Regions from separate parts of the Homo sapiens genome. Here region 1 is linked to region 2. The links come from fine-mapping of genetic effects on gene expression. A gene starts in region 2. The other region holds a variant in brackets. All regions are shown on one strand. Distances are between the middles of the regions. Region 1 has its middle 7.5 kb from the start of PI16. Region 2 holds the start of MTCH1 (mitochondrial carrier 1).

Region 1 (2,739 bases), 39 kb before region 2:
TCTCAAAAAAAAATAATAAAATAAATAAATAATAAAAATGAAATGAAAAGCAGATACATGAAATACAAGCCCAACTTTTAAATCATAGATTCAACAGGCAGAAAACAACCATGTCCAATTGCTGTAAGAGTTTCTAAACATTTACTCTCATTTTCTGGGCCTGTTGTGCTGAAAAACAGTGGCGAATCTCTGGCAGACCAGCACCGGGCCGTGGACCACACTTTGAGTGGCTGTGGACCACCTGCTCAGACGAGAAGCAAATGCCAGAGATGGAATTATTTTTTTTTCCTTTTTGGCTTATTTTTTTGTTATGGAGTTATACTGCTGTTCAAAATAAAACTTGATTTAAAATATACAGAAATAATAATACAGAAGAAAATCTATTTTCCCCAAGTCTGGGTTTATGGATAAAACACACCGTCTACTCTGATGCTGCCTTCTCTTTCTCCCTCTCACCCTCCCCTAACTTCACCTCTTCCATTCCTCTCTCTCCTCCATGTGCTTGCCTTAACTGCCCTCTTTTCCTAGTGGCAGGTCCCTGGCTCTGGTCCCACCACTTTGTCACTATTCCAGACCCTCCCCGACCTATACTGGGGAAATCACTTACCTTTCTGAGCATCAGTCTCCTTATGCGGGGTGACAGTGAGACTCACCTTGGAGAGCTATCCTGTGAGGAGTGGGTGAGGTCACTCAAATGGGAGAAGCTCTGTGAACCACGTATAAGTGTGCACACGCAGAGTGGACTCTGTCTGCACACCTGGGTCCCCACATGCGCTGGCTGGCTCTGGTCAGCCTCCCAGTCTTCATTCCCATCTCACCCAACCCTCTCAGGCAAGCCAGGTGTCTCTGCTTCCAACCAAATGCCCTTCCCAGGAGGCCTCCCCAGCCCACATCCTGGCAACACTCAACCAGTGCCCCTGTCCCTCAGAGAGGGGTGTGTCCTCCCTTTCTACCTAGGAGCTCTCCCAGGCCAAGGCAGTCCTCCCCAGGGTAAAAGCCAAGTCAGGTTGCTGTATTTTTTTTCTTTGCTATAGCCTCAGGCTATGCAAACTTTTCCACCTGTTATATATAACAGGTGGAAGATATATAATAACAAATACAGTAAGTTCTCACTTAAGTTGCTGATAGACTCTTGGAAACTGCAACTTTAAGGGAAACAAAACCAATTTTACCATAGGCTAATTGATATAAATGAATAGAATTCCTGTGACATATTTCTGGTGACAAAAACATCACCAAACTTCTAAAGATCAAAACACTTCTAATATTAAACACTGAAATGAATGTAAGCTATACATACATTTAAGAAAAATTAAGAAAAACAAGATAATTAGGCCAGGTGCACTGGCTTACGCCTGTAATCCCAGCACTTTGCAAGGCCCAGGTGGGTGGATCACCTGAGGTCAGGAGTTCGAGACCGGCCTGGCCATCTTGGTGAAACCTCATCTCTACTAAAAATACAAAAGTTAGCTGACTGTGGTGGTGGGCACCTGTAATCCAGCTACTCAGGAGGCTGAGGCACAAGAATCACTTGAACCCAGGAGGTGGCGGTTGCAGTGAGCTGAGATTGTGCCACTGCACTCCAGCCTGGGTGACAGAGCGAGACACTCTCTCGAAAGAAAGAAAGAAAGAGAGAGAGAGAGAGAGAGAAAGAAAAAAGAAAGAAAGAGAAAGAAA[G/GAAGAAA]AAGAAAGAAAGAAAAACAAGATAATTATTTACCCAATTATTCCAGTTCAGGGTCGTGGGTGGCTGGAGCCCATCCTGGCAGCTCAGGATGCCAGGTGGGAACCTACCCTGGACAGGACATGGTGCTCACACACCCACACTCACTCGTGCTGGGACCATGCAGACTCACCAATGAGCCTAGCGTGCACAGCTTTGGGACATGGGAGAAAACCCACGCAGACGTGGGGAGAATGCAAACACCACGCAGACAGTGGCCCCTGCAGGAATCGAATTTTTCTCTTACCAATGTCATGACAAAAAGACATGGAATGAAATGACGTTATTCAAGGACCTGCTGTATGTGAATACTGGCTAACTCAATGAGCACTTACTATGTTCCAGGGATGATCACAGGCCCTACCCATGTACTAACTCATTTAATGCTCACAACCATCCTAGGAGGTAGGTTCTGTTCTAAGCCCCAGTGTACAGATGTGGAAACAGGCCAGTGAGCAGAGAAATCACCTGCCCCAGGCCACCCAGCCGGTAAGCCCCACACTCTCATCCACAACACTGCCTGTGGTTGCTGGTTGGTTTCCTGCTGTTGTTCACCCAGCTCAGCGCCTGGCACAATGAGAGGCTCTGTAAGCCTTTGTTGAGTGAATGAATGCTGCCCATTGTCCTGCATCTACGGAGCTGTTTTCCTTGCTATTGAAGGGGCATGACTGGAGGCAGAGGCCACAGAGATGACCACACCAGGGCAACCTGTAGTGCCAGTGCCTGGTTCCACCCGGGGGGCATCTGAGAACTGTGTCCTTCCATTCCTGAGTCCAGCACTTCCCAGGCCAGGTCAGCACTTTAATTCCTTGGGAAGTCTGTTTTTATTTTATTTTATTCATTTTAATGTTTTAAAAGTTTTTAGAAATAGAGAAAGGGTCTCACTTTGTTGCCTAGGCTGGTCTCAAAGTTCTGGGCTCAAGCAATCGCCCACCTCCACCTTCCAAAGTGCTGGGATTACAAGCCTGAGCCACCACGCCCAGCTCTGTGTTTCTTTCTTTTTTTTTTTCCTTCCTTCCTCCTTCC
Region 2 (3,013 bases):
CCCCTTCTCCTCATCTGCCCAGATACAAGCACTGTGATTCCTCTCTCTGACCCCAACTATGACTTCCATTTCCTCCTCCAAATGCGTCATCCCCCTTCCCCGCTTAAAGCCTCCTCCTAGCTCCCCTCTCTAGACAAATCGCTGCCACTCCCCTCCCCCAATGCTGGCCCTATCTGTTCCCCTCCCCCCATACGCGTCACCCTGTCCCCTCCTCCTACCAAATCCGTCGTCGCCATCAAATCCAGAGCCCCCATCTCCGGTAAACCGATAGCATTCCCCTGCAAAAGTCTTTGCCTTCGCACTCTCCCACCAAATTAAATCACAATGCAACCCAAGACCTCCGTCTCCTCTGTCCACCCCCAGTCTGGTGTCCTTCTTTCCCTCCTAAATTTCTGGCCCTGGCGCCCACTTTGTCCCCACCCCAAGACGTTTTAAATCCATCTCTATCAAATCCAGAGCCTCCGTTCCCCTCTACCCCAATTATGTGCTCCTCATTCTCTAAACACTTTGCCTGGGCCCCCAACCTTCCTCCCCATCTCTTCACCCAAACTTCTTGCCCCTCCCCCAATTCTATTGCTTCTTCCCTCGCCCCAAATTCGCTCCCTTCCCTATCCCAAGTCCATCGTCCCCACTCCTTTATCTCCCAAATATGTTTTTCCAGCCCATCGCTCCCTCCTTGGCACTCCCCCAAATCGCTTGTTCCTTCCACCCTCTCCCGTATCTGTTATTACTCTAACCCCTTGGTCTCCTTTCTGTATCCTAAAACCCGTGACCCCTGCGTTCCCAACTCCCTCACGGCTTCCCTCCCATCCCACCCACTCGGCCCCCCAAACCCGCCGTCCCCACCCCTCTCCCCAAATCCGTCGCCATTGACTGCCCGCCCCAATCCTCCAAATCCTGGCCTGTCACCTTCACATCAGCCTCCCATCTCCCTACGGCGCCTCTGGTCCCCCACCTGGATGAGCAGCTTCACGTAGAGCAGGGGATGGCTGAGCGCCGTCACGCCCGCGCCCAGTGCCACGAAAAGAGCCTCAGTGGTCGGGGCGTTGTCCCCAGACCCCAGGCCCCCTGACCCGCCATCCATCCTGCGGGCCGAGGGCTGAGCCGCAGGCCGAGGGTGGCGAGGATGTGCGCGGTGCGCGGGCGGTGGATCGCGAGCTCGAGCCTCGACCCCCGCCGCCGCTCCGCCGCGAGCTCCGGCTCCAGCTCCGGCTCCCGCCATCCCCGCGGCACCGCCGCGAGCCCAGGGCGCCACTTCCGGGTCCGAAGCTCCCATGGCGCCCGGCGGCGAGGTCACTCCCCGTCACGTGACGGGGCCACGCCCCCTCACCGGCGTCAGGGGGCGGGGCCGGGGCGCACCACTCCAGGCCGCGGGGGAGCTCGGGAGCGTGGTGCGGCGGGTGGGACACGCCGGATGTGGCTCCCCGGCCGGTTGGAGGCCTAGCAGGACACTGGGCTGCGGGCCGGGGGTCAATGGTGGCGGGCAGCCGGGGCCCCGGGCTCGGGAGCTGTGGCGGCAGCCGCAGGCCGGGGCGCTCCCCCGGGATGCCCAGAGCACGCGGGGGCGGGGTTCGGCGCCTCTGGCTGCCAGACGTCCCCAATATGGTCTGAGGCGCTTCCAAGCCACCTCCCTGGCTTCGGGAGTTTTCTCTGCAGTTCTCTGCCCGCCCCTTTGCGGCCCAGATCCCAGTCGCCGCGGCCTGCGTGGAACTCTGCGCGAGCTGAATCTCCTGCTGCAGGACGAGCCCCGACCCCGAGCCCGATCCCCTCCGCGGTCCCAGCCTCTTTGTCCGATCGCATTTTCCATCTCCTCTGCCAGGAATGCTCTCCCAACCAGAGCAAATCCAGATGTCCCCTCGGCGACTGTGGGCACCCTCCCCAGCTGTGGAGCCTTCGCACGCCTTCCTCAGAGTCCGTGGTTGTAAAATTTGTTTTGCTCTAAAGTATTTGACTGTCTCCCTCACTAGATCCTGAGGGTTTTAGTGAGTGCCTCAGTGTGAGCACATGCAGGCACTGCTAGGCGCCTGTAGTTGATTCTTAGTTAATACAAGTGAATAATCACAACTAGACCTTAAATTGCAGGGACTATGTGACAGGCACTTTTTAAAATGCTTTATACGTGTTGATTTAAGTGTAATCGTCACAAGAACCCTGCGAGGAAGATAGGACAGCAAGTGCCCTGTTCCTGTTTGTAAACGTGCCCGACACTCTGCAACAACACCTACAACAGAACCGTGCTAGTTTTGGGGGTTCGCAATAAAAGTTTCTGTTTGAACGGATCCTAGAGTGTGCAGGGACACAGCAATGGAAGACCTGGTCCCTTTGTCTGTACTTAGTCTATAGCCAGTTCATTGTGAGAAATTTCTTTAGATCGACACCTGCCACTGTTAGTCCGGGTTTCCCAGTCTGTCCTTTCTAACTCCCTTCCTGCCTTACCCCCTAAAAAGCTACCTCCCCTCTTCCCACTCCTGATAATGAACACTATGTACTTTCCACGTTCAAAGCATGCCACACTCCCTCTCTCCCTCACCTTGGCCTCCCTAACCCAGGCTTGTCCTAGTGAAATCACTTGCAAAGCCTGCTAACCCTTTCAACTTGCTGTGTTTTCTCCATCAAACACAATTTTCATCAAACATCCCCCAGGAGCACCTTAAATGACTTCCTTTTGCCTAGGTTCTGATTTAGCTTTCTCAATAAGGACCTCAAAGTCAAGTTCCTAGTGCCACACTAACTCTCTACCCAGAAGAGGCGATAGGTTTTAGTTTGGGGGTGGGGGGTGGGGGTAGGGGAGGATGATTTACTTCCCCATCCTTCTGAAACTTCCTCACAGGAACCTTTTCCTTCTTTGGGCTTTTCGTCCCCATTTTTCTCCAACTGTCTGTTTTTCTTTCTGAACTTGGCTGTTCACCGTTGAGCCTTTTACTCTGCCTTACATGGTCACCTAACTTTGGGCCTATACTGTATTTGGCCCTTTCAAACTGTAGTTTCATGTGAAGCAGCAACTTTGTGTTGT

What was found. PIP is the estimated chance that this variant, and not a neighbour inherited with it, causes the effect. A credible set is the group of variants that fine-mapping cannot tell apart.
Region 1: its variant is the best candidate, but not a certain one, in a credible set for the expression of MTCH1 in whole blood (INTERVAL, PIP 0.69).

The regions. Positions count from the first base shown.
Region 1 is chr6:36,945,900-36,948,638 of GRCh38, forward strand. It overlaps a transcript of PI16 not described here. Among named protein-coding and RNA genes, the nearest start is that of PI16, 7.5 kb to the right of the region's middle. The variant G/GAAGAAA (reference allele first, on the strand shown) is at 1,678.
Region 2 is chr6:36,984,898-36,987,910 of GRCh38, forward strand. It overlaps MTCH1 (mitochondrial carrier 1), which reads right to left and starts at 1,299. Exons shown (of 12, transcript NM_001271641.2): 1 at 956-1,299. The coding sequence starts at 1,276. RefSeq lists enhancers at 853-1,575, 1,694-1,903 and a silencer at 1,014-1,603.